3 linked regions of the Homo sapiens genome follow. The protein of the gene in region 3 interacts with the protein of the main gene of each other region in a pairwise test. Each region holds a gene or a part of one and is shown on either strand. Other genes may lie near its edges.

Evidence for each region.
Region 1: the proteins of ZFP1 (region 3) and CRLF3 interact in binary tests that used the Homo sapiens proteins (3 or more experiments, as listed by UniProt).
Region 2: the proteins of ZFP1 (region 3) and MAP3K20 interact in binary tests that used the Homo sapiens proteins (3 or more experiments, as listed by UniProt).

The regions. Positions count from the first base shown.
Region 1 is NC_000017.11:30,793,523-30,800,908, forward strand, and holds part of CRLF3 (cytokine receptor-like factor 3), read right to left. Parts: intron 3,877-7,386; coding exon 3,789-3,876; intron 2,816-3,788; coding exon 2,638-2,815; intron 151-2,637; coding exon 1-150. UniProt on the Homo sapiens protein: May play a role in the negative regulation of cell cycle progression.
Region 2 is NC_000002.12:173,071,494-173,079,015, forward strand, and holds the start of MAP3K20 (mitogen-activated protein kinase kinase kinase 20), read left to right. Parts: upstream 1-4,352; 5' UTR 4,353-4,509; intron 4,510-4,577; exon of another isoform or gene 4,578-4,963; intron 4,964-7,522. UniProt on the Homo sapiens protein: Stress-activated component of a protein kinase signal transduction cascade that promotes programmed cell death in response to various stress, such as ribosomal stress, osmotic shock and ionizing radiation.
Region 3 is NC_000016.10:75,151,419-75,158,804, forward strand, and holds part of ZFP1 (zinc finger protein 1 homolog), read left to right. Parts: intron 1-1,490; coding exon of another isoform or gene 1,491-1,533; coding exon 1,534-1,548; intron 1,549-5,718; exon of another isoform or gene 5,719-5,793; intron 5,794-7,386. UniProt on the Homo sapiens protein: May be involved in transcriptional regulation.

The DNA of each region.
Region 1 (7,386 bases), on a different chromosome or scaffold from region 3:
GGCGCAGACTCTGAACTGGTAATCAACGTTGGGGTCTATGTGCAATACTATGAATTCAGTTTCAGAACCTACATATACATCCTCAAAATGATTTGAAGTACATTTACGAAACTGGAGCCTGTAATCTTGGGCTGTAAAGTCATCATCCACCTAGGGAGAAAAGCTTTATGTTAGGTAAAAAACAGAAAATGACTTCTCTCAGCATCACTGCTTAAAAATTTTGAACGGAGCCATTTTGGACCAAGCAGACAGGCCCACATGCTGAATATGGGGTATTCTTGGGAAGGCCATAGAAAATATGCCATCACATCATTATCTCCCTTCTTTTTTTTTTGAGAAAGGGTCTCACTTTGTCACCCAGGCTGTAGTGCAGTGGCGTGATCTCGGCTTATTGCAGCCTCCACACCCCGGGTTCAAGCCATCCTCTTCCTTCCACCCCACAAGTAGCTGGGATTTCAGGTGCACACCACCATGTCCGGCTAATTTTTTGTATTTTTTGTAGAGACTGGGCTTCACCATATCTCAGATCTTTAACTCCTGAGCTCAAGCAATCTTCTCGTCTCAGCCTCTCAAAGTGCTAGGACTATAGGCGTGAGACACTGCGCCTGGGCTCCCTTCTTTTCTTTATTGAACCATGTGTTCTGTATTTCCCAGTCTGATATAAAAAAGTCTGCCTCCTTTGAAGAAATGGCATGTTTTTTAATCAATGCCAAAGATAAAACATTCAAGATTCAGTAAGTCTCCCACAACCATACATCATTCATAATAACCAAGAGATAATTAACATACAGTATACAGAACCCCCATTAATTTTTAGGGGTCCTGCATATATTCTGTATGTTAATTAGCCACCCAATAGAAAAATGGGTAAAAGACATAAATAAGCGTTCTACAGGAGAAGAAACATAAATAGCCAAAAATGTATATTATGAATATTCAACCTAATTTGTACCTAATTTGTAATATGGCAAATACGATCTAAAACCACAACAAGGCCAGACATGATGGCTCATGCCTATAATCCTAACACTTTGAGAGGCCGAAGCGGGTGGAGCACTTGAGCCCAGGAATTTGAGGCCAGCCTAGGCAACACAGCAAAACCCCATCTCTACAAAAAATTACAAAACTTAGCTGGCTGTGGAAGCACATGCCTGAAGTCCCAATTACTTGGGGGCTGAGGCGGGAGGATCACTTGAGCCCAGGAGATTGAGACTGGAGACATGATTGTGCCACTGTACTCCAGCCTGGGTGACAGAGTGAGACCCTGTCTCAAAAACAAACAAATAAATAAAACCACAACAAGGTACATTTAGGCAAAAATATAAAGTCTCACAATGCCAATTATTGGTCAAGATATGGAATAACAGAAACTCATATACTCCTTGGAAGGCTAAATTGATAGAATCATCTTGTGGAAAGTTTGTTATTACCTATCAGCGTATGGATCCAATACTCTAAGAAGACCTCATAATTTTACACCTAGGTAAATATTAATATTTTACAAACTTCACATATGTCCATAAAGAAACACAAGTAAAAATACTTATAGCAAAAAACTGGAAATAACTAGGTCCACTGATAGGAAAAATAATAAAAATGGAATGACAGTCCTGTTAGAAAATAACAACAGCATGTTTATAAAAAAAGAAAAAAAAATTTCCTTTTAATAAAATCTCAGCTGGGCACAGTGGCTCACACCTGTAATCCCAGCACTTTGGGAGGCCGAGGTGGGCAGATCACCTGAGGTCGGGAGTTTGAGACCAACCTGACCAACATGGAGAAACTCTGTCTCTACTAAAAATACAAAAATACTAAAAATACAAACTTAGCCAGGTGTGGTGGCGCATGCCTTAATCCCAGCTACTTGGGAGGCTGAGGCAGGAGGATTGCTTGAACCCGGGAGACGGAGGTTGTGGTGAGCCAAGATCGTGCCATTGTATTCCAGCCTGAACAACAACAACGAAACTCTGTCTCAAAAAAAAAAAAAAAGAAAATGTCAGCCAGGCGGAGTGGCTCACACCTGTAATCCCAGCACTTTGGGAGGCCAAGGTGGGCAGATCACCTGAGGTCGGAGGTTGCATCGCTGCACTCCAGCCTGGGCGACACAGCAAGGCTTCATTTAAAAAAAAAAGGCCAGGCACGGCGGCTCACACCTATAATCCCAGCACTTTGGGTGGCCGAGGCGAGTGGGTCACCTGAGGTCAGGAGTTCAAGAACAGCCTGGCCAACATGGTGAAACCTCGTCTCTACAAAAAATACAAAAATTAGGCAGGTGTGATGGCAGGTGCCTATAATCCCAGCTACTCAGGAGGCCGAAGCAGGAGAATGGCTTGAACCCGGGGGAAGCGGCAGGCGGGGGAGGGCATGGAGGTTGCAGTAAGCCGAGATCACGCCACTTCACTCCAGCCTCGGTGAAAGAGCAAAACTCTGTCTCAAAAAATAAATAAATAAAATAAAAATAAAACTGGAAGAGCTACCTCAGTGTTCCATGTGACTTCATTTTAACTGTAAAGTAAAAGAGATTTTTGTTTGAGAAGAAAAGAATGTATTTAAAAGTAGTCAACGAAAAAATCTGAAAGGCCTCCAAATCGCAAACCCATAATGTGGAAGTCATTTCTAGAATTCTGAATTACATACCTTACACCATCGTACAATGATGCCTCCAGGTTTCTCTATTAGTTCTTCTATCTGTACTGGTGGGCGAGATGCTACTGTTCCATGCTTAAAAATGTGGTCTTTCACTATGTTAAGAATTGAGTCATCCAACTGAGCAGATAAACAAGGCACATCAACCAGTAAAGGTACTTCTGGTAAGCTGAGGAAACAAAGCTCATGTGTTATGAGACCTCTAACTGAGAGTTAAAAAATACAAGAAATATTTTAGAGCAGTCACATGCTTGAAAGATCCTGAAGCCCCCAGTAATTAATTCTCATGGCAGTAGGGGATTTGCAAGATGTTACACAAAGATTCTCTTTTCAAATAAATATAAGTAAGACAGAAAATTGGTAGGATCATAACTGTCCAGTTTAAGCCAAAAGATCTGGTTTACTGGAATATGACTCCATTTCAACAATACATTGATAATTTCTAAAATTTAACAATTCTTTTATATATTGGATTGAAAAAATGTGTAGTAATACTATACCAAGGATTATAATCACAACTATTTCATTAGTAACAGTGGTAATGGGCAGTGAAACGCTTTTTTTTTTTTTTTTCAGACAGAGTCTCACTCTGTCCCCTAGGCTGGAGTGCTGTGGTGCGATCTCAGCTCACTGCAACCTCCACCTCCCCGATTCAAGCGACTCTCTTGCCTCAGCCTCTCGAGTAGCTGGGACTTACAGGCGCACGCCACCATGCCCGGATAATTTTTTATTTTATTTTATACTTATTTTGAGATGGAGTCTTGCTGTTGCCCAGGCTGGAGTGTAGTGGTACAAACTTGGCTCACTGCAACATCTGCCTCCTGGGTTCAAGCAATTCTCCTGTCTCAGCCTCCCCAAGTAGCTGGATTACAGGTCCATGCCCGTCTAATTTTTATATTTTTAGTAGAGACAGGGTTTCAACATGTTGGCCAGGCTGGTCTCAAACTCCTGGCCTCAAGCAATCCACCCGCCTTGGCCTCCCAACGTGCTGGGATTACAGGTGTAAACCACCACGCATGGTCTGAAAACCTTGAAATATATATTCTCTATCTCCCTTAATGAGAATCTTGAACAGAGGGAGGAAAAAAGCAGACATAGTTTAAATGCTTAAAAGTAAGTCAAAAAGGCACAAACTCTTTTACCTGTCCAACTGAATGTGCGAGGCCTTTTTGGTAAAGCTCCACAGTTTCTCATTCTCTTCTCCCACACCACCAAGCATGGCGATTTCACCTACAATCAAGAATAAGAGAACTAGAACAATGAAAATGGTCACATATAAAGTAATCAACACAACTCATGTCTGGGTGGGTCTCTAGCGTTCTTGCAAATAAGTTCTTAAGTGATGCCACAGTCAAATTCCCAAAAAGTTAAAGTAGAAACTATTTTAGACGTGACTCTAAGATCAAATCCAAGAGGAAAAGGGATATACAGTGGCAACATTTTGCCAGAGATGAAAAATCTATCTACTCTATACAAGGAAATCAACCAATTTTAGGCAAAGCAGAAAGCCCAGGGACTTCTTTCCATCTCTCCTACAGAATCATTATGAACTTCAATAGGAGCCAGTACAAAATATTGCCCTGAGAGGTGCAACAGGGGATAGGGTGTTTTTTTTTTTTTTTTTGAGACTGGGTCTTGTTCTGTCACTCATGCTGGAGCACAGTGGTAGGATCATAACTCACTGCAGCCTTGAACTTCCAGGTTCAAGCAATCCTCCCATCTCAGCCTCCCAAGTAGCTGTGACCACACGTGCACGCCACCATGCCCAGCTATTTTTTTTTTTTTTTTTTTGGTAGAGATGAGGTCTCACTATGTTGCCCAGGCTGGGCATAAGGCTTGAAAAGCCAAATGATGCATCTATGTTTTCCTAAAAGAGTATCATATATCAGATTACAAATTATTCAACAGAACAATAAAAAGAAAATGTCAGGCTGGGTGCGGTAGCTCACGCCTGTAATCCCAGCACTTTGGGAGGCGGAGGCAGGTGGATCACGAGGTCAGGAGATCAAGACCATCCTGGCCAACATGGTGAAACCCTGTCTCTACTAAAAATACAAAAATTAGTTGGGTGTGGTGGCAGGTGCCTGTATTCCCAGCTACTAGGGAGGCTGAGGCAGGAGAATCACTTGAATCCGGGACATGGAGGTTGCAGTGAGCCGAGATCACGCCACTGCACTCCAGCCTGGGCAAAAGAGCGAGACTCCGTCCCCCCCGCCAAAAAAAAAAGTTACATAGAGGCATATGATATGAAAATGACCAACTTCTATGTCCTTCCACAGCCCTGAAGAACACTGCCAGAACTCTTTTCCATCTAAATGTGCCCTGTAGTTACTCAAGTTTTTTGAGACCATATGACCTTCTCCTTCACCAAAAGAAAAACAGAGACATGGCCGGGTACTGTGGCTCATGCCTATAATCTCAGCACTTTGGCAGGCTGAGGCTGGTGGGTCACCTGGGGTTGGGAGTTCAAGACTAGCTTGGCCAACATGATGAAACCCCGTCTCTACTAAAAATACAAAAAGTAGCTGGGCATAGTGGCACGCTCCTGTAGTTCTAGCTACTAGGGAGGCTGAGGCACTAGAATCGCTTGAACCCGAGAGGTGGAGGTTGCAGTGAGCCAAGATCGTGCCACTGCACTCCAGCCTGGGCAACAGTGTGAGACTCTGTCTCAAAAATAAGTAAATAAATAAATAAAATCCTCAAAATTCCATAAGTAAGTTTCTATCCCTCAGGAGAATAGGAAAGAGTTTGACATTAAAAATATTCCTAAAGTTTCCTTCTGCTGCTGAGATGTATAATAATTTTTTTTAATTAAAAAACATAGGCCAGGCACAGTGGCTCACGCCTGTAATCCCAGCACTTTGGGAGGCCGAGGTGGGCAAATCACGAGGTCAGGAGTGCTAGACCAGCCTGGCCAACATGGTGAAACTCTGTCTCTATTAAAAATACAAAAAATTTGCTGGGCGTGGTGGCGGGCGCCTATAATCCCAGCTACTCGGGAGGCTGAGGCAGGAAAATCGCTTGAACCTGCGAGGCGTAGGCTGCAGCAAGCTGAGATCGTGCCACTGCACTCCAGCCCAGGCAACAGTGCAACACGCCATCTCAAAAATAAATAAGTTAATTAATTAAATTAAATTTTGGACATACAAAAATATTCAAGTATCAAATGCTGTAACACTCACACTGCCTCAAAGGGATTTTTTCTTTTTGAGACAGAGTCTCACTCTGTCACCCAGGCTGGAGTGTGATGTATAATCACAGCTCACTGCAACCTCAAACTCTGGGGCTCAGGGGATCCTCCCGCCTCAGCCTCCCAAGTAGCTAGGACTACAGGAATGTGCCACTATGCCCAGCCAGGATTTATCTTTTTTTTTTTTTGAGATGGAGTCTTGCTCTTGTCGCCCAGACTGGAGTGCAATGGTGCAATCTCAGCTCACTGCAACCTCTTGCCTCAGCCTCCCGAGTAGCTAGGATTACAGGTGCCCACCACCATGCCCAGCTAATTTTTGTATTTTTAGTAGAGACGGGGTTTCACCATGTTGGCCAGGCTGGTCTTGAACTCCTGACCTCAGATGATCCGCCCCCCTCGGCCTCCCAAAGTGTTGTGATTACAGGCACGAGCCACCGCGCCCGGCCAGGATTTATCTTCTAAAATAAAAACAAATGATCAGTCCTCAGGGTGATGAGTGTACACTCCTGGCCCGTGGTGCACTGCTTCTGGGTTTGTTTCCAAATGCAAAGCCACCAAGGAAAGACATTTCATGGTACTGCTAGAATTTTCTCAAAAGTACTGTTATGGTCAGTGGCAAATAAACACTTCTCATTGAAGACAAGACAAAAATGTAACCAGCAATGTCAAGATAACACCCATACTATATTCTAAGTGGGACCAAAAGAAGATTAACTTCCAGGTGGAGTGACAGCCATGTGAATCATCCACGCCTTTTTCCCACACCACTCCCAGCACTCATTCTGCAGAAGAGATGGAATTCAGTCTCCTTCCCTAGCTCCTTTTTCCTCAAATGACTTTTAAATGTTGGTGACCCTTAGCGTTCTAATCTCTTTCATCTGCTCTTCTCACATTACACGGTGTCCCTTGATGATTGTACTTATTCCAATAGATTCAGATTTGATATATATGCCATTAACTGCCATACTGACATCTCCTGGTATGATCTCTCTCCTAAGAATCATACCCGTATTTCCATCTTAAGCACCTCAAACTCACCATGCCCAAGCCAAATGCCTAACTACGTACTAAGCACCCGCCTTCTCCTTCAATTCCTTTGTCAAAAACAGCACCACTATTTATTCAGAATCCAAAAGTAGGCTGATTTTTGTTATCACAAATCCTTTCCTTTCCCCTCCATCACATATGTAGGTAATCATCTACAGATAACAGTCACTGCTCAGTAAAATCATCAATAATTCTACTTCTTAAAAAAAAAAAAAACTCTGTCTTGTTTTTTTGTTTTTATTTTTAAGAGACAGGGTCTTGCTCTGTTGCCCAGGCTGGAGTGCAGTGCTGCAATCATAGCTCAAGCTCTCCCACCTCAGCCTCCTGAGTAGTTGGGACAACTTGTGTGTGCCACCATGCCTGGCTAATTTTTTTTTTTTTTTTTTTGAGACGGAGTCTCGCTCTGTCGCCCAGGCTGGAGTGCCATAGCACGATCTAGGCTCACTGCAAGCTCCGCCTCCTGGGTTCACGCCATTATCGTGCCTCAGCCTCCCGAGTAGCTG
Region 2 (7,522 bases), on a different chromosome or scaffold from region 3:
ATCTGGGGCAATGGTTATTTTTCACTAAAATGTTATTTATGTTAACATAGATAGGCTTATTGGCTTATTATTTTTAAATGGATTAATTTCTAATTTTTTTTTTTTTTGAGACGGAGTCTTGCCCTGTAGCCCAGGCTGGCGTGCAGTGGCACCATCTCAGTTCATTGCAACCTCTGCCTCCCAAGTCCTGCTTCAAGCAATTCTCCTGCTTCAGCCTCCCGAGTAGCTGGGATTACAGGCACCTGCCACCAGGCCCAGCTAATTTTTGTATTTTTAGTAGAGACGGGGTTTCACCATGTTGGCCAGGCTGGTCTCGAACTCCTGACCTTGTGATCAACCTGCCTCAGCCTCCCAAAGTGCTGAGATTACAGCCGTGAGCCGCCGTGCCCAGCTTTAATTTCTAATATAATAAATTTGATAGATATGACTCACTTAAAAGCTATTTGGCATCCTCAATGACTTTTTTAGAGTGTAACGGAGTCCTGAGACCAAAAAGTTTGAGAACTGCTTGATTTGAAAAAACAAGCCTAAAGTCTACCTTTTGCTCCCTGAGGGAAGGCAAGTTGCCCAACTTTTCCAAGACTTTTTCTGGCCCCATAGCATGGGATGATGACTTAAAACTACCTGCTAGGGTTATTGTGAAGACTAAATGGGAAGACGTCTGTGTAAAACTCTTAATTCAGTGCATGGCGTATGACTGTTCAGTAAATATTAACCATCTATTATTATTATTGCTTCTGCTATTACTGTTACCACTACTATGAGGGCTATTACTCCCTGCTGGTGATGTCTTTACTCAGATACATGAAGAACTTATTCTTTGAACTTGCTAAATGCTCTCAGGCCATTGCACTTGTTTCCTTTGCCTGGAATATCTTTCCCTCCTTTTTGTCCAGCAAATCCTCTTCATTTCTTCTTGTATTAACTTCGAGCTTCTTTGATTTAGAAGCCTTCATTGACCTCTCAAAACTATGCTAGGTACCCTGCTGTAAGCCCCAATCTTTGCCCCTTTAAGAGCATACCATAGTGTAATTGCTCGTGTCTTTGCTGGCTCTTCCATTGCACTCCGAAAACTCTGTGAGAGAGGGGACCATGCTTGTTCACTGCTATAATCATAAAGCTCTGCACAGTGCCTGGCAGTCAGTAAATGCCTGTTGAATACATTTTGTAAAAGTCTTCAATATGTCTTCTTGCCACACCGCTCCTTTCATGTCCCAGGGTGCCTAAATAAGCTCGATATCCTGCATATTCCTGTAAATCTCTTTGATCCTCAAGTTAGATGTAAACACTAAACTCAAACAATGATCTGGGCTTCATTTATGATTTTAAGGCAATGGTTAAATGACTTAAAGGATGTTTGATTATATACCTTAATTTCCCAGGGATTCAGAGTTGTACAGGAGGTAAAGCCTTGGTCTTTGCATAAAAGTTGGGTAATTCTTAGCTATGATCCAGGCATAGACTATTCACAAGTTAAGATGGAAAACTAAGACGGCTAGAGAAAATGCCCCTGGGTGCCAGCTTGTGCCATAACTCTTACCACTATAAGAGGAGGGGAGGATAAAGACTGCTTTCTTCCTTTTAAGTTGCCATTCCTTCTGCCATTCGTAGAATTTATGTCTGCACTTTTCTCATCCACTGATAGCTAGTGGCAGTTTCAGAATATCTATTTGAAGAGGGGCTTAGAAGAAACAGTCCCATTGAATAGGGGGATAGGAAAGTTTTTCCTTAAGCTATATTTATATTTTTCAACTTAGATTGCATGTTTATTTTGGAGAATGTTCTTGGATATAAGAGGGTGCTAAGGACTTCCAAGCCACCTCACTGCTAAGAGTACATCTATTTTTAGTGTGGAAACATTTGAAGTAAAGGAATAGGCAGGTTTGATAAGAGAAGTTTGACTAGGTCTCTTTTGTTATTGCTTTTCACACGGGTAAACCTAAACTCTGCCTGGTGAGCATTAACCAATTCAAAAAAGATTTGAAAGTTCAAAAAAGCAGTCGGTGTTGAGAATACATACTAGACCATATTTATTAGGTCTGGGGCCTAAAAAGATCAGTATAATCAATAGGAAACAGGCAGCTTGACAAAAGAAAAACCAAACTTGAGGCAATCAGTTTATCATACAATCATTATATATTTATTTCAGCTATGGACAATACATATGCAGATACCACACAATATAAGATGTGACCTCAAAGGGCTTGCAACCTATTTGGGAAGACAAGAAAATGTCTACTAGATTATCATTTAAGCATGTTTCTGAAACTAATCTTTAGTGTTCATTGTTCCTGCTGGTTATTCTCTTGGCCTAATTATGTGAGGAAAACAGAATGAAGGCAAAGGGATGGGAAGCAAGGGCAATGTGGCTAAAAATATTGATGCTCTTAAGCCATGTGTTCCAAATTTAAAGCAATACATTCATGGTTTTAAAGCTGGAACCTGCAACTAACTTCTAATTAGTCCCTCTTATTTTACAGAGGAGGAAACTGTGGCCTATCCTGCAAAGCACTCTAGCTGATAACTGGTAGCTCTAAGACCAGAAGTCAGGTTCTCTGACTCTCAGTCTAGGGTCCTTTCCAAAACAAACAAGTGCCTCTGAAGGTAAGGTAAAATGACTGGAGTCTTCCTATGCCTGGGGTCTATGCTAAAGAGCCTTAGTTTTTCCTTGAATGGATAGGATGGAATTATTTGAATTATTTTATTAGACCTGCATTATACATTTTTTTAGCATGGCAATTTTCATCAATTCTAATTTCTCAGTTACCAAAATAAAATTTATTAATGCTAAAATCTCCAGTCCTTATCAAAGGGCAAATTAATCAGACTAATAAATTGTTTTTTAACCTCTACTCATTCATCCCTCAACTTTCATATCTTTAACCTATTGAATGACTTACAAATTTTCTATTTCACTCTTGACCTCTTTCCTGAATTTCAGTTTCATATTTCAGTTGCTGCATCTCTACCTGTTTTTACTCCTATGACCTCAAACTCAACATGAAGCCAGCTTCCCTTTCACGTATTCCTATTTTTGTCAATGACACCATCATTCTTCCAGTCATCCAGGTCTGAGATCTTGGCATCATCTCTCTTCTTCTTCTCTTCTAAATCTTGTGGGTTACCAATTTCTGTGGCCTCTTGCTGAAACGTTTAATATTTCTCTCAATTCCATTTCTTCTTTTTTTTTTTTTTTTTTTTTTTTTTTTTTTTTTGAGACAGAGTCTCACTTTCATCCAGGCTGGAGTGCAGTGGCGCGACTGTGGTTCACTTTAGCCTCGACTTCCCCAGCTCAAGCGATTCTCCCACCTCAGCCTCCCGAGTAGCTGGGACTATAGATGTATGCCACCACATCAGGCTAATTTTCTGATTTTTTTGGAGATGAGGTCTCACTGTGTTACCCAGCCAGGTCTCAAGCAATCCTCTCAGCTTGGCCTCCCAAAGTGCTGGGATTACAGGTACCATGCCCAGCCCATTTCTTCTTTTTAATTCCATTTCCTACATCCTAACTCAGGTCCTCATGATCCCACAACCGGGTGGTGACAATATCTACTACTCATCCTGGTTCCATCCTAGCAACCCAACCTACAACTACTGTGGACTACTCTCTCAAAATTACCATTTAAACAGAATCACAAACCCCCATTTCACCCCTTTGATTCTAATTTTTCACAGCTCCCAGTGTCCATGGATAATAAAATTCAAATTCAAAATCCTGAATAATGTTGCCCATGCCCTTGCAACCTCCTCTCACTTTTCCTTCACAGAACCATCCTCCCCAATCAGAAATTTCTTTTCTTCCCAACGCCCACCTCCACCTTTGGCTTAGGCCTGTAACGGACTCTGGCTCCTCTTCTGAATTCTGCTCTGTTAAAATTAGCAACTAGAGCAGCAGACCACGGCCCCTCCTCAAAATTCCAGAGGTACCTACTGATCTTTCTAGAGAGGCAGCCTTCAGACCTATGTTCCCAGAAATCTCTACGTTTGTGCCTTTCCCAACTAGAGAATTAACTCTTGCGGGGCACAAAACAGCCTCTATTTCTTTGCGTCCCCAGCGCCTGTTTGTTGAAGACTGAGTTGAAGGAGTAGCAGGTGGTGTTAATTTGTCAAAAAGATGAGTTAAGGTGCTGGGGGCGAGGGGGAACACCCCCACGGCCCTCCCCCCACAGCAAGGCAGGTGTGTCTGGGGGCCTCGGCGGGTGCCGGGGCGCGGGGCGGATGGTGCCCCCCGGGCGCAGGCCAGGGAGGCCCGAGCGCCTTCCCCACGCCCCGCTCGCCCGCGCGTGTGAGGGGAGGGCGGCCCAGCCGTTTCGCGCCGGGAGGTAGGTGGTGCTGTTGCCGTGACTGTCTTCCTCATTGGCGCCGTGCAGAGAGGCGGAATGTTCAACTCCTAACTGCAGCGGAAACGTGGGAGCCGCGCGGGCCGCTGTCGTCCCAACCCCCGCCGCCCTCGTCGCGCGCGGGGCCTCCGCGCCCCCGGCTGCTGCTCACGCCCCGCCCGGGAGCCAGGTAGGGGTCAGGCTGGAGCCCGCGGAGGGCGGGGAGGGAGGGGGCGAGGCCCGCCGCGCTCGCGAGTCGTCCCTGCGTCTCGGGGCCGAGGCTCCGCCGGAGCCCGGGAGTCTAGGCGGCCTCGGGAGGCTCCTCGGGGCTCCCCTCCCCGACCCAGGGCCCGCCCGGCGGCGGCGGCCGGAGCGAGCGGGCGGGCGAGCGAGCGAGCGTTCGCGGCGCCCGGGAAGTCCTCGCGGGACCTTGGCCGCGGCGCCGCCAAGTGCGGTTCGGGAGAGTTCGGGCCGGTCCCATGGAGAAGTTGGCGCCTGGAGGCGCGGGCGCAGGCCGGAGCGGCCCCGGCTTTCGCGGTCCCGGGCGTGCGGCACGGGCAGGGGCTCCGCGAGCAGCAGAGCCGGCCAAGCAGCGGGTGACTGGGGCACTGTCGGGAGGCGAACCGCGAGGCCCCCAAATCAGGGTAGGGTGCAGGCCACTTCCCAGCACTCGCTGTGCGTGCGAGGAGGGACGACGAACTTCTGCTTTTCTAAGAACTCGACCGCGAGCGGTGTTGCTTCCCATCCATTTTCCTTCATTCTGTTTTCCTCACACAATTAGGCCATGCGAATAACCAGCAGGAACAATGAACACTAAAGATTAGTTTTAAAAACATGCGTAAATGTATCCAGAGCCACCGCTCCCCGCCCTTCCTGCCCCGGGCTTGGGCAGCATGAAGCGCCCGCCCTCTCGGGCTTCCCCCTTTCCTCCCACCGGAGCCGGGGATGTCTCCTTTGGCGACCCTCAGGCAGCGGCTTTTTGTGGGCTCCCAGACCTGCACCAGGCCCAGAAGTGCTTACCCAGGCCGTCGCCTCGTCTGGCCTCGCTTGCCCATGACAGCTTTCAGAAAACTTTAATTCAGGACTGGCTAGATGACATCCGATTGCCTAAAAAATTTTTTTAAAAAGTTATCTCTGTTAGATCGCTGAAAATGTTATGTTTCTGATGCGCTTTGAGATCGCGCATAAGTACTGTTTATGGGGAACTTAATTACTATTTTTGTTAGTTTCTGTAATAATGAAAGCAACACAATTTAGGGGCCCATTCCAAGTATGGTACAGTAAGCAGCTCTCGATACTGGTGTGTGAGAATCGTCTTACAGAGTGAATTTGAGGATGTTTGACTTAAGATTGTTGAAAACTGTACTCCTTCTTTAACCCCGAAGCTGTTTTGGAAGAGCCTTCTTGCTTCCTCGACCTTCGTTGAAATGAACAGCTAGGATTTAGTGGATCCAAACCTCCAAACACGTTTAAAGACAAAAATAAACAAGTGATTCAAGGCTAGTTAATGTCCTCTTTGTAGTAGGCCTATCTCCACAGTGAAATTTCACTTGTTTTTCAATTTTCCAAAAAAAAAAAAAAAAAAAAGTGATGGCTGCATTTTAATTATGGTTATGGTCATTTGTAGAGTCTTTGTTTTAAATTCCTGCTACTATAGTGAGAGATTTAGGAGATTGTAAATGAATACGAATTTAGTTTGGGAAAACAGAATTAAGATAAAGAAAAATGGTCTTTTGGACCACTGCACTGTTTATTTTAATCTATCACAATTTAATTCCTACTATAACTTTTTGAGATTATTTGGGGAGTTTTTTAACTACAAAATATTGTTTAAATAAAAAAATTTAGTGATAATAATTCCAGAGTAAATGACCATGATGCAATTGCAAGGACTTTCTCCGTTGTCTAAAAAAGCAAATAGATGATTGATCCGTTTTTCTTAATCTTTTAGGGAATATATAAGGACACAGTAAAGAGAGAAAAAAAAATCCAAATATTAAACACTCGGACTTGGATCTAAAAATGGATGGTCAAAGATCTTGGGAACTAAGGGGCCTTCTTGCCAAATAAGGAAACTTGGCAAGTTGCACTGTGTATTTTAACTTAGCACAAGAGTGAGTGTTATTGGCAATATATTGGCTCAGAGCCTATCTGGAATGAGCAGTGAAACTGACTTTGATAGGGCTACAAAATTATAAATAGGTTTGTGGGGGCGTGGAGTGAATAATCGAATCATCAGAGAAAACACTGAAAACTTTTCATGAAAATAAGTCAGATGTAAGGTGAAGCTATTAGTGTGGAGTGACAGAGCAAAATGGACAGTTTATTTTAGAAAGTGGTAGATTCAGAAGAGAGGAGAGAATCAGTGGTTTTTTTGTTTTTGTTTTGTTTTTGTTTTTGTTTAAACTGGAAAAAGATGTTTGTGGGGATATAATACTTCTTGGAATAAGATAGCCCTATGTCTGTATCCTGAGATGTTGGAAATAAAAATGAATTTAGATCACTTGTTTTCCATTTTATTCTACCCAGGACAGATTGACAGGGTGAGTATCTTGTCTATCTAAATGTAGTAGGAACAGTTAAGGCACCTTTTGGTCTTACTGCAAGGAAGATTTAGGCTAGTTTTTTGGTAGCTATTAACTTTGCCCCACTAGACACAAATAAGCAGAGTTCCAGCTGTGACCAGAAAATTGTACCTGGTAAGGGAAGAGGACTATGAATGCTAGAGCTTAGATTGATTCGACTGATACATGGGTGCTTTTATGTCAGACCCTCCTACGGATGCTGAAGCATCGTCCTAATAGCTGTTAAGTAATCCCAGCACAGTAGAAGAATCTGTGAGAACAAAGCAGCCCCACATTTGACACCCTAACCCCAGTGTCTTCAATTGTAATAGGAAATTAAAGCCTCAAATTGAACTTTAGGTGGATGGTGAGCAATCCAGTAATTACTGTAATAAGAAAATAGTTTAAATAGGGTAAACAAAAGGCAAATTAGAAGGAGGAGGCAGAATGTTATTAACAAAAAGACATGATATGGTAGAAAACAATGATATGACTTTGGAGTCAGGCCTGAATTTGACACAAGTTGTGTCACCTGTAAGGTAGTTGGCTTGAGCTACTTTCATACCCCTGATCCTCAGTTTTCTCACTCATGTAAGTTAGGAACAGTAGTACCTGCTTCCTAAGGATAAGTACAGTCAT
Region 3 (7,386 bases):
TTTACCTTTTTTTCTGTCTACTTTTGTCTTAAGTGGGTCTTTTTTATAATTACATTTTATCTCCACTGTTGTCTTATTGTATATTTGTAAAAATTTAACAGAGTTTTTGGTTGTTACCCTAAAGTTTAGTGGAACTTTAAAGATATCATACTGTTTTATGTCAATATACTTGGAACATTATACTCCCAATTTCATCCTCCCGTCTTTTGCATTATTGTTGTCATACATGTTGCAGAATATTGACATATGCTGTAAACCCACAAAACTTTGCTACTATTTTTGCTTTAGATAATCTTTCACAGTGATTAAAAGCAAGAAAAAGTATCTATTGTGTTGATCCTCATTTTAACGATTCTCGAGATTTTCATTTATTTGTGTAGATTCAGGTTTTTGTCTGATATCATATTTCTTCTATTTAAATAACTTCATTAAACATTTCTTCTAGTGCAGGTCTACTGATAATGAATTCGCTATGTTTTTGTTGTTTGAAAAAGGTTTTTTACTTCATTATCATTTTTGAAAGATATTTTTGCTGGGTATAGAATTCTGAGTTAATAGTTTTTTGCTTTAGTTGCTTTTTTGTTGTTGTGAAAGCACTTTCAGGATGTCACTACTTTGTTTTCTGGCTTAGTTTCTGATGAGAAGGTGGCTATGATTCATTATCTTGATTTTTCTACATATAATATGTCTTTTTTCCTCTGGCTACTTTGAAGATTTTAACTTTGGTTTTCATTTGTTTGGATACGATGTGTCCATGTGTGTTTTTGTTTGAGTTTAGTTTTTGGTATTTTCCCTGTTTGGATAAATTGAGTTTCTTGGACCTGTGGTTTCATATTATTATTTTTGGAAAATTCTTGTCCATTATGTCTTCAAATACTTCTTTTCTCCTTTTGGAATTTCAGTTACATGTTTATTAGACCATTTGATATTGTCTCACAGCCCTTGGATGCTCTATCCTTTTATGTTTTTCTTCCATTTCTCTTTGAGTTTCAGTTTGACCTATCTTCAAGTTTACTGAAACTTTTCTTAGCTCCTTTGTCTACTAATGAACCTGCTGAAAGATCAACTCTGTTACTGTACTTTTCTTAGCATTTCCATTTGATTTTTTCTTGCAGTTTCCATCTCTGCTGAAATTCCCTATTTGTTTATTCATGTTGTCCACCTTTTCTAGTAAAGCCTTTAGTATATGAATCATAGTTGTGTTAAATGCCCTGTCTGATAATTTCAGCAGTTGAGGGTTCTGTTGATTGTTTTGCCTCTTTTGATAGTGGATTATCTTAGTCTTGCCTTTATGGGTGTCTGATAATGTTAGATTGAAGATAGGTGCTGTTAGTATGATCTTTTCTGCCCCTTCTGAAGAGGCAAAGGGACTTTCCCAGGAGGTGGTATTTTCCCAGGTGGTCTCTAGGGGTTTCTAAACAAGTCATTCTAGGAGTTGTAAGGCAGGTCAGACCTTTAATAACAATGCCTTCCTTTTTCCTCTATTCCAGTTCTGCCTTCATAGTTCTCTGCCTTTGCCCAAAACTGCAGAAAATGAACAAATCCCAGGTGAGTTGTTTGTTTATTCCCCATTTTGCTTTTCAGTGCATTTAAGGAAGTTTATAAGGATCCAGAAAATGAAATAGAAAAGTATGAATAAGACACAAAGGAAACATAGCAAGAATAACTAATCAATACCAGCAGCCAAAAAGCAAATTGAGTTAATTAAATGTCTTGCATTGGTTATGAATACCAATTATTTGGTTCTGTACATTAGGTCTGAATAAATTTTATGGACCTTCATATAGATGGTGTTTTGGACAGCACCCCCAGAAACAACCAACTTTGAAAGGGTTATCACTTTATCTGTGGTTGTTTCATATAACATTCCTCAGTGCAAGTGCAGAAGATTATTGTATGTATTTGGTTTTTCCAGTCAGATTAGCCTAATGCCAGAGAATGCAGTAAATATGTGGGTTTGTATTTAAATCCCTCCACCCCAAGCAGGTACCACTGTCATTACTTTCTTGTGTAGCTTTCCAGAGCTTATTTGTACATAATTACACAAGTACAAATAAAAGCACAAACGTAAGATAGCATGTTAATCATACTGTTCTGTTTATATGCGTTCTGTTTTAATAGATTTCATTTTTTTTAGAGCAGTTTTGGGTTTACAGAAAAATTGAATGGGGAATGCAGTGTGTTCCCATATACCCCCTCATTCCCAACCCCTACCCCCAGTTTCCTTTATTATTAATATATGCATTAATGTATATTGTTACAGTTGATGAGCCAATATTGATACTTTAAAGACCATAGTTTACAGTAGGGATCACTCTCTGTGTACATTCTGTGTATTTTGACCAATATATAATGACATGTATCCATCACTATGGCATCATACAGAATAGGTTCACTGCCCTGAAAATCCCGTGCTCCGCCTATGCACCTCTCCCTCTGTCTCCCTAAGTCCCTAACACCCACTGATCTTTCTACTGTCTCATCTCCCTAGTCGTGTCTTTTCTAGAATGTCATATAGTTGGATTCATGCAGTAGGTAGCCTTTTTAGATTGGTTTCCTTCACTTAGAAATATGCATTTAAGGTTTCTCCAAGTTCAAGACAATGCTGGCCAACACGGTGAAACCCCGTCTCTAGTAAAAAAAAAAGTACAAAAAATTAGCCAGGCGTGGTGGCGGGCGCCTGTAGTCCCAGCTACTCGGGAGGCTGAGGCAGGAGAATGGCGTGAAGCCAGGAGGCGGAGCTTGCAGTGAGCTGAGATCGCGCCACTGAACTCCAGCCTGGGCAACAGAGCGAGACTTTGTCTCAAAAAAAAAAAAAGAGAAGGTTCCTCCAAGTCTTTTCTTGGCTTGATAACTCATTTCTTCTTAGTACTGAATATGTCATGATGTGATGTACCACGGTTTATTTATCCATTCACATATTGAAGGAACAGATAAACTTAGTGGCTTCTAAGTTTTGGCAATTATAAATAAAGCTGTTATAAACATCTGTGTGCAGGTTTTTTGGGGGCATGTTTTCAACTCATTTGGATAAATACCAAGGCCCCTGGATCATACACTAAGAATATAATTAATTTTGTAAGAAACTGCCAAACTCCCTTCAATGTGGCTGTACCATTTTACATTCCCACATTCTCACCAGCAATGAATGAGAGTTTTTTTTTTTTTTTTTTTTTGGTTTTAAGGAGCGGAAAGTTTAATAGGCAAGAAAGAAAAGAGAAGGCAGAAGGAAGAGGCTCCCCTGACAGAGACAGAGGGAGGGGGGCTCCAAAGCCGAGAGAGGGAACCTCCTGAATGAGAGTTTCTACGGCCCTGCATCCTCACCAGCATTTTGTGTTGTCAGTGTTCTGGATTTTAGCCATTTTATTTATTTATGTTTTTAATTTTTATTTTTTTTGAGATGGAGTCTTGCTCTGTCACACAGGCTGGAATGTAGTGGCGTGATCTTGGCTCAGTGCAACCTCCCCTTCCCAGGTTCAAGTGATTCTCCTGCCTCAGCCTCCCGAGTAGCTGGGATTACAGGTGCGCACCACCATAGCCCAGCTAATTTTTGTATTTTTAGTAGAGATGGGGTTTCACCATGTTGGTCAGGCTGGTCTCGAACTCCTGGGCTCAAGTGATCCACCCACCTTGGCCTCCCAAAATGCTGATTACAAGCGTAAGTCACTGTGCCTGGTTATGGTTTGTGTTTCAATCTCTTAATTATGTGATTTGATTTTGTTTTGTTTTTGAGACAGGGTCTCGCTCTGTCACCTAAGTGGGAGTGCAGTGATGTGAACACGGTTTACTGCAGCCTCGACTTGCTGGACTCAAGCAGTCCTCCTGCCTAAATCCCCGCAAGTAGCTGGGACTACAGGCACATGCCGCCATGCTTACCTAATTTTTTGTATTTTTTTGTAGAGATGGAGTTTTGCCCTGTCGCTCAGGCTCATCTTGAACTCCTGAGCTCAAGCAATCCATGTCCACCTCAGTCTCCTAAAGTGCTGGCATTACAGGTGTGAGCCACCGTGCTCAGCCCAATTATGTGTTTTTTAAATCATTCAGTAACATATCTTTGAAGTATTTCCATATCAGAGCATAGAGGTTGCTCATTCTTTTTTTTCCTAATCTTTAATTGTGTGACACATGTACAGAATAGTGTATTAAGACATAACACTCTTTAAATGTGTTATAACAACATATATAACAAATATATATGCATTAAAGAATAATAATAAAATGGGTGCCCATGTAGGCACCCAAGTTAAGAAATAGAACATTATCTGTTCTTTATGACAAATTTTCTGATTGAATCCACCTAGTAGATAGCCACTATCTTGACATTTTTCTTAATAGTTCCCTTGCTTTCCTTAAAGACTTTACCACTTAGATATATTCTTAATGTAATATTCAGTTGATAAACTATAACTGGGATTAATATCACTTATAGTCTTAATATAAAATTTAGTTAACAAACTATAACTGGAATTAATATTGCCTTGGTTTGCATAATCTTTTGTCTAATTGGTGGAGGTTTTTTTTTCCTTTCAGACATGTGAGATCTAAAAGATGCATCCGTGGGCCCTTTGCCAAGACTTAGGTTATCATTTATTTTTTAAATTACACTAGCTAGTGTTAGCTAAGAAGAAATGAAACCACTCATGTATTGCTGGAGATAGTATAGAATGATACAGCCTTACTGGGAGCAATGTGGCAACACCAAGCAAATTTAGCAGTGTAAAGCAGCTGTGTCTAGAAATTTGGCTACTGTTGGGGCCAGGTGTGGTGGGTCACGCCGGTAATCCTAGCACTTTGGGAGGCCGAGGTTGGTGGATCACTTGAGGTCAGGAGATCGAGACCAGCCTGGCCAACATGGCGAAACCCTGTCTTTACTAAAAATACAAAAAAAATTAGCCGGGCGTGGTAGCATGCGCCTGTAATCCCAGCTACTTCGGAGGCTAAGGCAGGAGAATCGCTTGAACCCAGGAGGTGGAGGCTGCAGTGAGCCGAGATCATGCTACTGCACTCCAGCCTGGGCAACAGAGTAAGACTCTGTCTCAGAAAAAGAAAAGAAAAGAAAAGAAATTTTGCTACTGTTGGACAAAGCCTCCCAGGAAAAGATGAGCTGAATTGAATTTCCAGGTATAGCCTGGCTTTGACTTTCCTGAGAGTTTACAGAAGTCCCGTTTGGGGAGGTTATTGGCAAGGTCATGAGAAGCATGGGGCTCAACATAGTTGGGCCGTGTGACAGGGTCAGAGTGTAGACTAGGTATTGAATTTTTGGTACGAATATAATTAGAGGGAGTGGGATGCTATGCATTTTCTGCATCTTGGTTCACTGGTGAATAGCCACCACTCAGGAGTAGATTAAAGCAGAACACTTCTGTGACATGAAATGACTGTTCTCATCTGATCCAAGGCAGTCTGGTATGGAGGGGAAAGACAGATGTCATCAGAACATGTTCAAGATAAGCCAAACCAAGTACAGTTAAGAATCTGGGCCAGGCTCACCCAGGCATTCTGCCCTCAGGTTAATAAAAAGTTGGTACAGTGGCCGCAGGTATCTTGTTGATGACAACCCTCAGAATGCCAGCTTTTGAATCACTGTGTTCCAGTCCGTAACTACAAGTAATGTGGTGTTAGTAGAGAATCAGTGCTATTTCACCATCTCCCACCGCTGTCTCCTTCCCACTCCTAGGGATTTCCTTCCTCTCTCTCATGTTGATCTTTTGTTTGCAGCGTCTCTTTTTTGGATTACTGTTGTTTTATTGAAGTACATGCTTCAGCAGCTTCTTGAGAAAGGGTTTGTGAGAGGTATGTTTTTTAGGCTGAATTTCTGAAAATGTCTTTTTTTTTTTTTTTTTTTTGAGACAGTCTCACTCTGTCTCCCAGGCTGGGGTGCAGTGGTGTGATCTTGGCTCACTGCAATCTCTACCACAGGGTTCAAGCAATTCTCCCGCCTCAGCCTCCTAAGTAGCTGTGATTACAGGTGTGTGCCACTACACACGGTGAATTTTTGTATTTTTAGTAGAGACGGGATTTCACCCTGTTGGCCAGGCTGGTCTTGAACTCCTGGCCTCAAGTGATACGCCCTCCTCAGCCTCCCAAAATGCTAGGATTACAGGTGAGAGCCACTGCACCTGGCCTTCATTCTGTTCTGGTATTTGATTGATAGCTAGGTATGAATGTGGATTTGTCCATTCCTCAGTTTAGTTCTGTCAGGCTTGATATAATTTGAAGCTGTGTTAGTCATTGCATATATGGTTATGGATGTGTGCACACATATGATTCTGTCTTCCTGATGGACTTATCCTTTTATCATTTTGAAATGCCCCTCTTTATCCCTGATAATACTGCTTTTCTGATAAAAATAAAGCCATACCTACCTCTTCTGGGTTGGTTGGTTGGTTTGTTTTGAGACCGGATCTGGCTCTGTTACCCAGGCTGGAGTGCAGTGGCTTGATCTTCACTCACTGCAGTCTTTGCCTCCTGAGTTCAAGTGATCCTCCCAGTATTTGGAACTACAGGCGTGTACCACCATGCTCAGGCAATTTTTGTAGTTTTGTTTTTGGTAGAGATGGGATCTCGCCAGGTTGCCCAGGCTGGTCTCAAACCCCTAGGCTTACGAGATCTGTCTACCTCAGCCTCCCAAAGTTCTGGGATTACAAATGTGAACCACCATGCCTGGCCCATACCTCCTTTTTTTTATGATTAGTGTTATGGTATATATTTTATTTTTGCTTCAACCTATTTATGTTCATATGTTTATAGTATATTTCCCCTAAATAGCTTGTAGTTTGGTCGTGGTTTTGATCCAGCCTGTTTCTTTTTTCTTTTTTTGAGACAGGGTCTTCCTCTGTTGCCCAGGGTGGAATTTAGTGGCATGAACACAGCTCACTGCAGCCTCAAGTTCCTTGATCCAGCCTATTTCTGTCTATTTTTTTTTTTTTTTAATTTTTTTTATTTTTTGAGACAGGATCTCTCTTTCTCACCCAGGCTGCAGTGCTGGAGTGAAGTGGTGTGATCTTGGCTCATTGCAGCCTCAAGCAGTTCTCCCACGTCAGCCTCCTGAGTAGCTGGGACTACAGGCCTGTGACAGTTAATTTTAATTTTAATTTTTTTTATTTTTTTTGTCGTGATGAGATCTTGCCTCCCAAAGGGCTGGGATTATAGGCGTGAGCCACCATGCCTGGCCTATTTCTGTCTTTTAATTGGTTTATTATTTTATTTGTGATTTTTTTTTTTTTTTTACAGGCATAGGTGAATTTCAGTGTGTCATTTTGCTATTTATTTTTAGTTGTCCTGTGTGTTCCTATTTTCCCTTTTATCTTTTTTTTAAGTGGTTGCTGTAGAGATTACAGCTTATAATCTTAACTGACCACCTCTTTAATATTTTGCATATTACTT